Linked DNA regions of Homo sapiens. The protein of the gene in region 1 interacts with the protein of each later gene in a pairwise test. Each region holds a gene or a part of one and is shown in the gene's direction. Other genes may lie near its edges.

Evidence for each region. Proteins that work in one complex are often made in the same cells at the same time.
Region 2: the proteins of RAP1GDS1 (region 1) and ZNF451 interact in a two-hybrid assay, tested with the Homo sapiens proteins (one large-scale study listed by BioGRID and IntAct).
Region 3: the proteins of RAP1GDS1 (region 1) and MBIP interact in binary tests that used the Homo sapiens proteins (3 or more experiments, as listed by UniProt).

Annotation. Positions count from the first base shown.
Region 1 is NC_000004.12:98,441,788-98,444,394, forward strand, and holds the end of RAP1GDS1 (rap1 GTPase-GDP dissociation stimulator 1), read left to right. Parts: intron 1-202; coding exon 203-330; 3' UTR 331-2,071; downstream 2,072-2,607. UniProt on the Homo sapiens protein: Acts as a GEF (guanine nucleotide exchange factor) for the Rho family of small GTP-binding proteins (G proteins) that stimulates the dissociation of GDP to enable subsequent binding of GTP.
Region 2 is NC_000006.12:57,096,688-57,100,306, forward strand, and holds part of ZNF451 (E3 SUMO-protein ligase ZNF451), read left to right. Parts: intron 1-2,373; coding exon 2,374-2,454; intron 2,455-3,619. UniProt on the Homo sapiens protein: E3 SUMO-protein ligase; has a preference for SUMO2 and SUMO3 and facilitates UBE2I/UBC9-mediated sumoylation of target proteins. Plays a role in protein SUMO2 modification in response to stress caused by DNA damage and by proteasome inhibitors (in vitro).
Region 3 is NC_000014.9:36,307,019-36,310,637, reverse strand, and holds part of MBIP (MAP3K12-binding inhibitory protein 1), read left to right. Parts: intron 1-2,448; coding exon 2,449-2,546; intron 2,547-3,619. UniProt on the Homo sapiens protein: Inhibits the MAP3K12 activity to induce the activation of the JNK/SAPK pathway. Component of the ATAC complex, a complex with histone acetyltransferase activity on histones H3 and H4.

The DNA of each region.
Region 1 (2,607 bases):
AAAAAAAAGTAAAGTTTTTATGATTTTTTTAAATTATAATACATTTCTAAGAAAGACATTGCTAGGCTACTGCTATGTCTTTTTCCAGAATTGTTTCTAGTTTTATAAGCTTAGTCTTGTCAAAATAAACATTTTGGTATATGTTTTGGATAGACTTAGAACAACCTAACAGAATCATATCTGTTATTTTTTTGTCTTCCAGAATGTCTACACAAGGAAGTACAGGATTTGGCTTTTCTAGATGTCGTATCCAAACTTCGCAGTCATGAGAACAAAAGTGTTGCCCAGCAGGCCTCTCTCACAGAGCAGAGACTTACTGTGGAAAGCTGAGAACTGCCCGATACACGGCATCATCCCATCTCTAATTTCCCCTCTGTCCTCCATCCAGCGGCTTCTTCCGCTTCATTCTCTACCATACCACTTGTGCATGCATGTGATGTTCTAATACCAATTGAAGAACCGCTGTAGGTACCTCCCTAATAAGATTTCTAAACCTATAGTTAGTGTGATCATGACTTTGTCAAAGGCAAGTCTCCACCCATAACCGTTCTCTTGTATTCCTGTTGCTTGAGCTACATTAAGTAGAATGTGCATGTTGTAGTCCTATGATGATGTAAACTTGGTACTACATAATGACTTGCTCCACACATGCAGTAAACTACATAATGATGTACTGGTAAACTAGAAACAAAGAATGCAGCAGGATCTGTCTAGCTTATTAAAGATGAAACTGAATTGGAAAAATAGCTCCATTTTTTGGTGCTTGGGAAGCACAGTGACCAAAAAAGTTGTATGGCTGCTTATTCATTAGTCTTTCCTACTGATGTCAAATCCATGGTACCTAGAGTTAAATAAAATTCCAATGCTCTTACTCTTTAACTTCTGGTTTCTCCTTTTTCCTTTTTAGACTATTGAAACTGCCACAAACTTGGCAAGACTTTCTGAGGTTTCTGATTCCATATTTAATTGACTATTATCAATAGCCTGATATTGAAAAACATTTGTAGTTTTCAGTGTGAAACTAAGGGGTTGAAGAATCACTATTACAATCCCTATTACAGAGCATTTCGGGTTTTGCTTGTATTTTAGATTCTGATACATACGCTGTTTCACTCAGGAACTACTTCTACCAGTTAATCAGCATTATCCAGCACTTGTCTTTAAAATTCATTTGGCGCTTGTTTGTTTTCAACTGAGGAAATTGAGTATAGTTCATTGAAGAATGGAATTTTTTTTTTTTTTTTTTTTTTTGCTGTTTTTCATCATTCAGCTAGAAAGTGAGAAGTTTTATCTTCCATAGTCCTTTTAAATCTTATGTTAGAACTAGCAGGACGTAGGTGGAAAGATGAAGAAATAAGCTTGTCTAGACTAAAGAAAGGAAAGCAGGTTATAAAAGCCATAGTAGCCAGTCCAGTTCATTCTGCAGATGGCCCCATACCAATCGCTGTTAGAGTTTGCCACCTCCACTTTCCCACTGAGAACTGCAGCAATTTTAAAGGATATGAGAAAGCCAAGACTCAAGAGATGAGAAGACCCCCTTGGCGAAATATAGTGTACTCTTCACTGCCACTGCCACCACCAAATGGGTTTTTAGAGCTTTGAAACACAATCTTTGTAAATTAATCAAAACCTCCCTGTGACCCACCTGCCTTCTCCCCATACCCAAATTTGACCACTACTGGCCTAAAAGGCAAGATGGGCTTCGATATAGAAGGACTGCAAGACAGTAGAAAGGGCTGCCACGGAGGTGACAGTAGCTCCTTCCTCTCCAACATGTGATGCTACACATCTCTGTGGATAATCTAAGTTGGACTTTTGACTCTAAAACAGCTATAATCCAAGAAAGTTAAATTCTAATGGAGGTAAAGAATCTTGACTGATTGTTCCCTTTGATGTCCAAATAAGGGAACTATTGTGAGTACGTATGCTACACTTACTATAAGAATGATACTGTTTGTTGTCTTTCTCCTGGGCTGGATAGTGGACTATATTTTATTACAGGCTTTGAAAGACATCTGTAATGTTGCATATCTGTTCATATTAATAACTTAATAAATAGTATATGAAGCTATAATGGCATCATTTGGTTTGTTTGTATATTTTGTCTCTATTTCCAGCTCCTAGAATAAGGCTTGCTATTGATGTTCAACAAATATTTGTTGACTGAATGAATGAATCCTGCATCCATGAAGTTTCCAGACTGCCTGAACTAATTCCAGAAAGATAGACTGACTGACTGATAGAAAGTTTGAGATTTGATAGTTTGTCTGACTTTAGGGAAAAAATTTTAACAAAAGCATCCTAAAATCGTAAATGTGAGAGAAGTTACCATCTAGGCCAGCTGCCAGCCATCAATTTGCTAATATGCTAGGAACTCCCATCTCCAGCAAAATAAAGTGCAATTCAAAGTACTCATCATTGTACGGAAAGACCAGAAGGCTGTGCCCTTATCACAGGGGCTACCAAATTAGATGGTACACTGATGTGCCATTGCAGTGGATGGGAGAGTCTACAGACTGTACTCTCGCTTATCTCCTGCTACTAAATCTTAGTCCTAGAGGCCACTATTTATTAAGTTAGTTTGCTACCCACTAAGAGTACATTCTA
Region 2 (3,619 bases), on another chromosome or scaffold:
AGCAAAGTAAGATGATTATATCAATGGGAAAAGCTATCATTTTAATTTTTCTTCTTGGATCGAACATACAATTTTCAGTCTTTTTTTTTTTTTTTTTTTTTTTTTTGTGACAGAGTCTTGCTCTGTTGCCCAGGCTGGAGTGCAGTGGCACCATCTCAGCTCACTGCAGCCTCTGCCTCCTGGGTTCAAGCAATTCATCTGCCTCAGCCTCCTGGGTAGCTGGGACTACAGGTGCCCGCCACTACACCCTATTCCTATTTTTAGTGGAGACAGGGTTTCACCATGTTGGCCAGGCTGGTCTTGAACTCCTGACCTCAAGTCATCTACCCACCTCTGCCTCCCAAGGTGCTGGAATTACAGGTGTGAGCCACCGTGCATGGCCTACATTCTTCATACCAGATGTAGATTTTAAAGTAGGTGATTCAGCTCTGTTTACCATATATTGGAGAGTATTGCTTCCTCTGTTTCTTTAATTTTTACTTCCGTGTTTATAGTTTGAGCAAAAATCTCAATTCCTTTGCTACAGATCCCTGCCCAGTTTTGCCCTCTTGTTTTATCTTGGTATCTGAATTAGTACCCAAAAGATGGCAGTTTCTTGGTTGAGCAGAAGTCATAGCCTAGGGGAGAAAGAAGCTATCTTTGAGACTGGATGCCTATTCTAGGGAAGATCATTACCTAGATCTCAGCTTCTGTCTCCAGCAGTCAACTTTCTACATCCTACAAAATCCTTTCCTCAGCTATTATTTCTTCTGTGTTCCTTTCTTTTGTTTCCAACATACTGGATTTCTCAAAAGAATATGGCCTTTTCTACTGCATTCTCTAGTGTTTTAGAGCCTGGCTTCTGTGCTCACTACTTTCTTGAAAGTTGCTCTCTCAAAGACATTTAAAAATGTCTGGTTGCCACATTCAGTGGCATTTTATTGTTGCCGTGTTTCTGGCCACATTTAACACTGACAGCTTTTTATTGAGGCAATATGATAGTTCAGTTTAGTTCTAGAGTTTAATAGTCTTCTAGGGGAGCAACTCTCAAGTCTTTATTTCCAGGTATGTTCATACTTCCCAGATTACAGGCCTGCATTTCCAGCTGTCTGCTAGATACACCCTGTGTACCACTGTTACTTCAGCCCATAGGAATGTCAGCTTTCTGTTTCTGCTTTCCAAAGTTATACTATTGGCATTACTATTCTTATAGTCACCTGAGGTTAAAAACTTAGAGATCACTGACTCCTTGTTTTGTTTTTTAAATAATCTTTTAAATTTATTTTTATTTATATATTTATTATTATTATTATTATTATTATTGGGATAGTCTTGCTCTGTTGCCCGGGCTGGAGTGCAGTGGCGTGATCTTGGCTCACTGCAACTGCTGCCTCCCAGGTTCAAGCAATTCTCCAGCCTCAGCCTCCTGAGTAGCTGGGACTACAGGCACGCACCACCATGCCTGGCTAATTTGTACATTTTTAGTAGAGATGGAGTTTTACCATGTTGGTCAGGCTGGTCTCGAACTCCAGCCTGGCCAACATGGTAAAACCCCATCTGTACTAAAAGTACACAAATTAGCCAGGCATGGTTCTAACCTCAGGTGATCCCCCACCTTGGCCTCCCAAAGTGGTGGGATTACAGACATGAGCCACCACACCTGGCCTAATAATCAATCTCTTTTAGTTTTCCATTTTACTTGTATTCTCTTGTATATCCACTACCATACTCTTCTTGCCATCACCACCATTAGTTCTGCATTGTCATGTGCCTATACTGATTATCTTGCTTTCCCTGCTCTCCATACTCCTCTATGTGATTGATCTTGAAGCACAGTTCTCATGTTATTGTCTTATTATTATTTTTTATTTTCTTTTGCCTATTGAATAAAATCTAGGCTTTTAAGCCTGACATTCAAGGCCTGGTTGATGAAGAAATTGGCATGGATGGAAAGAAAGAATGGAAAAGAATTCAGGTTTGATGCTTGACTCTGCAGTGGTGGATGATGAAGCTGAGCTATAAGTCAATTCATTTTTGAACTTGGATATATTAACAGACTTTTGATACCAATTCTAGGTGTAAAGCACTGGATTATAATATTTGTGTCTTTGTAGCACTGTTCTTATATTAATTTTCCTTTCCCAAGTAATTGACATGGCCCTAATATTCTACAGGGGTGTAGGTGCTTCCTTTTAGGTCTTGTCATCATTTTACATTTATATATTTTGAATATTTTCCTCTGCTGCTTTTGTTCTGGTTATTTTCTGCTACCCACAAAGCTCCCTCTTCAGAGTAATTCTTGCCAGTCCCAACCAAAAAAAACACTGTAGGTTTAAATGCTAATTTGGTTTGAATAACTGTTAATGACTTCTAAATTTGCTTGATTGTTTATAGGAAGGACCATTACGACCTGTTCTTGAATACATTGATCTGGTCAGCAGTGATGATGAAGAGCCTAGCACCTCTTATACTGATGTAAGTACATTATATTTGATTTGTGTTTCTTCACTTGTGTCTTTTAAGAGGTATTCTCTAAAGAGAGTTACCAAATCAGGGAAGGCTGTGTTTAGAAATAGCCAGTTCTATTAGAATGGGCTAAAATAGGTAGTCCAAGGAGTCCTTTGCCCAGATCTCCTACTTCCAGTTTTTTTCCTCTACTTTGAATGAGATTATGAAAAAAATGATAATATGACTCTGGGAAATTCAGAGCCTTAGAGGTGATATCTGATAAAATGGAAATGGAATAAAAACTGCAAGCTTATTGATTCCTCTTTCCCTTCTCTTTTCCTTTACTCTCCTCAGGTGCCCTATACAACAGGATTCTTTTGTTCCAGAACCACATGACCACAGAAAATTTGTTTTCTCTTAGAAAAAAGGATATGTAGAGATCCTTTTAGGAATGGAAAGTGGGGGAAGGGTTTATAGGGGATATATTACTTCAGTCATCATCCCTTTAACCTTGTCTGTGCCCCACATATTTGGAGTTATTTATCTTACCTGTGATGTACTGGTTGTAGGTTTGACCCTTGGACCAATACTTCCCTTGCTCTGAGAATTGAACTAGTTGAGCCCTTTGTAACAGTCTTGCCTTTCATTTGTCCTTGCTTTAGCCCAAACTTCTGTTAATGAGCTGTTTTCATCTTGGATTAGAAAACTCTTAGTTATTGTTCAGAGTGGCCACAAACTTCTTGCTCTGTGATATAGGGGATTGAGACTTGGACTTGGAATCAGAATACCTGGGTTTGAGTCCCAGCTTTACTCTTTACAAATTCTGTGACTTTGGATAAATTAAGTAACCTTTTAGCCTCCGTTTTTTAATCAAATAATACCTACCTCACAGGGTTGTTGTGAGGATGAAATGAGGTAACAAATTATAACTTCTTATAACTACAAACCATAAAGTAGGACTATACAACTGGGAAGTTTTGTTATTCGTGGACAGTGAATGACAGAATTTTCAGAGGTGCCTAAAATGACTCTAATGGGGGAGTTTTAGATTTTTTTTCTTCTCAGTGGAACTTTCCTTAAGTTCTCTTTGCCATCATTAGCTTCTTGCATATCTTGAGTAGAACTTAACATATCTTGAATGGGATATTTTTTTCTTTTATTCTTATGAGTGGTCTCACACAGGACCAAACAG
Region 3 (3,619 bases), on another chromosome or scaffold:
GTCTGTCTCCTGCTAGATAGTCCGTGAGAGTGCAACTATGTCTGTCATATTCATTTCTTTGTACCTATTACAGTGCCTGGCACAAAGCAAGTGCTCAAATGTTTATTGAATGGACAGTTGCTTATTTCACCTTTGCAGATGTATGTACGGAGGGACAGAAAGTTAGTGTTTGACTCTCTCAGGGTAGGTCAAGGGATGATGGCATCCTAATGAAGTGACATTTGAGGCCTTGAAGGATTAGTAGGAATTTTCCAGAGCAAAGCATTCCAAAAAGAAGAAACACCATTTGCAAAAAAGGACAAAAACACAAAATATGGTTCAGGAGATATCTGAATCCAGTATAGCTGGAGTATACTAGCTATCTGAAGCTATGCTAGCCAGATGAAGGTAGAAGAAGAAAACAGAATGAGTAAGTCTTTGAGAGTAATAAGACACTGGCATTAAGAATTAATCTCTTCCCTCAGAAGTGGATGGGTTTAAAATGCCACTGTATAAAAGGATTGACTGGTTAAGTCTCTAATAATAGTATGAAACAGTTAAGTTTTTGGAAAAATATCTGTTGAATGTTTACTATGCTCCAAGCACTATTTTAGGCACAAGGGATACTGAGATGATATAATCATAGTCCCCAGCTTCAAGGACTTTATAATCCAAATGAGAGAAAGATTAATAGTGAAGTAGAGTTTTAAAGGAGTAATGAAAGGATGGGTGTAGTGGTGTGTGCCTATAATCCCAGTTCCTTGGGAGGCTGAGTGGGGAACAGAGCTTGAGTCCAGGAGTTTGAGACCAGCCTGGACAGTATAGTGAGAGTCTGTCCCAAAAAACTCAGGAGCACTGAAGAATGGTGGGGGCACAAGGAGCCTTTATGCGAATGAAGAGGTTTCGGCAGTGCCTGCGTTACCCAGTGAAGCTTGAACTGGCTCTTGAAAGATACAGAAGTAAGGCAGAGGACATTGTAGGTAAAGGGAGCAGCAAAAGCAAAGTCAAATGAACAAGTTAACTTATTTAAGAACAAGAACAACCAAGGTCCTAAGATTTCTTAAAATCCTCAAAATTTCTAGAATTTTTACATAACAAGTTGACAATTTTGATATAGAAATTTACCCGTATTCTTTAATTGCATAATGATTGGCTAATCATGTATTCATTCAGTCAGTAAATATCAAGCACCAGCTCTTTGCCATGCATTGTAGTCTTATGAACTGATGCTTCCTAGGTTTGTGCAGTGCACAAGCTGCACAGCCCTACCTAATGAACAAAACAGATAAAACTCTGTCCTCTTGGAGCTTATATTAGAATGGGGAAACAAATAATACAGAAAGAAAATATACTGAATGTTGGGTGGTAGTAATGGAATGGAGAAAATTAAGGTAAGGAGGATAAGGGAGTGCTGGGTAGGGGAGTGGTAGTACTGGTATTTTTAACAGAATAGTCAGAGAAGGTGTTACTGATAAGGTAACTTTTGAGCCAAGACTTGAAATTGACTTGGGATTATGGCGGTAGAGGGAACCAGCTGAAGCTTACAGGGTGCTTGGCCTCTTTGAATAACAGAAAAAAAGTAATCAAGTGGCTGGAACCATGTGGGCATAGGGAGAATATCCACATTGTGTATGGCCTTGTAGGCCATTGTGAGGGCTTTGGTATTTAATCTGAGTGAAATGATCAGGTATTGGAAGGTATTTAACCTCAGTGAAATGATCAGGTATTGGAAGCAGAGAAATGATGTGATCTAACTTATATTTTTAGAGGATCACTGGCTCCTGTGTTGAAAATACACTCTACGGAAGCATGGCAGAAACAGGGAGACCAGTTTGGGAGTTGCAGTAATCCAGGGAGAGGTGGAAGTGGTCTGGACCAGAAAGGCCACAGTGTGGAGGGGGTGAGAAGTAGAAGGATTCTTGATATAATCATAAATTTAAAATTTGAGTGGCCATAATTTACTCTTCCCCTCCTCAGAAAGTTTGTTAGTTTAGAATTATGGTAAAGCCCCTTTTTTACATTCTTTTAGGTCAAAGGAAAAATATGGCATGTAGGGAGAAATATTAATTGAAGAAAATAATATGACATATTGCAACCACTGCATTGAATTATCGTCATTTGTCACTATGCATTTTTGTCCTCCCATGTAACTATCAAAGCATATCAGAAATATAAATTGTTCTACATGGAAGCTATTCAATATCTTGTAAAATGAATTTAACATGAAACTCCTAGAATATAGGAAGCATAAATGGGGTTTGGAGAGAGGAAGTGTAGTACAATATGTCCGATAGTGTATAATACAAAAATACGACCTAAGGACTTCATTCTGTTTTACTTTTGTTTTTTATTTTCTTAAGTATTTTCCATTCCTTTGCATAAGTGTCTTTGCATGGTATTTTAAGAATAAAAATTGTGAAAAGAAAGAATTATTCAATAGTATCTCAGATTTTTTTTTAATGTATTTAGGTGGTCCAGTGCCAAGAGACATTTATCAGAGAATTAAAAAACTTGAGGATAAAATCCTTGAATTGGAAGGCATCTCTCCTGAATATTTTCAGTCTGTAGTGAGTATAAGTGTCTTTTAAAAATAAATGAAAATGTTATTGTATTCTGGATTCTTTGTGGTTTAACAGTCACTCATTGATCTATAAGCAAAACACTATTTTAATAATTCAAAGATGAATGAACACAGTCCTGTATAGGGGATATATCTAATTCCTTAAAATCTCTGGTTCTGAATATTTTTAAAATTTAGAATTTTTAAAAAGGGATACTTCTATTATATATTACCCACATTCTCAAACTTAGGCCATTTTCATGGCATAGTAAGTCAGCCTGGGTGGTGGTTGGGCCTGTTACTCTGAACTTGCTACCTTGTAAAACAGAGGCTTCCTCTGTAACCTTGCTCTTTCAGTGATCCCTCTGCCTCTTTAATCTCTCTTCCCCAACAGGCTCCTTCTCTCAGCTCATATGCAGTTAATACTAAACAAACACACACCTCAAGCTGCCACTCTTATTCTTTACCTTAACCACCAGACTTTCTATGTTTTTGTAATTCCTTAACTCTAGCATTCATTCATTCTTACCCCGTTTTCCAAGAACCTTAAGAAACAGTGTTGTGCTGGTAAGTTAGTATCTTTGGCACATCAACATTTTTCAGAAAAATGATCCTGAGCTCATTGTGTTTTCCTCAGTCTTCTGAGGTGATTATGTATAATACCTGCCTTCTCTAAGTTTTGTTTTTTTTTTAAAGCAGTACCATATTAGAACTAAAATAATATCAAAGTGAGATTATACCAAAACTCCTATTTCTGAAAAATTATGTGAGATAGCCCATTTTAGCATGGATCATATAAGTTAGTGGTGAAAATATATTTAAAATTTATTTTAGGTATGACAGCAATCTTCCAAAGTTATAGATTGAGTATAAGAGTGAGTTACAGAAAAGAAGTATTTCCAGAAGAAGAAGGCAGGTCACGTAACAAAAGGGAGCAGCAAGTCCTAAATGACAAAATTTCAGAGAAGAGTTTTAGTGATTTACTACTCTCAAATGTAAAATGAGGTTTATGAAAATACTAAGGGCTGAAGCAAAGATCAAATGAGATAATGCTGATCAAACACTTAGCATACTGCTTAG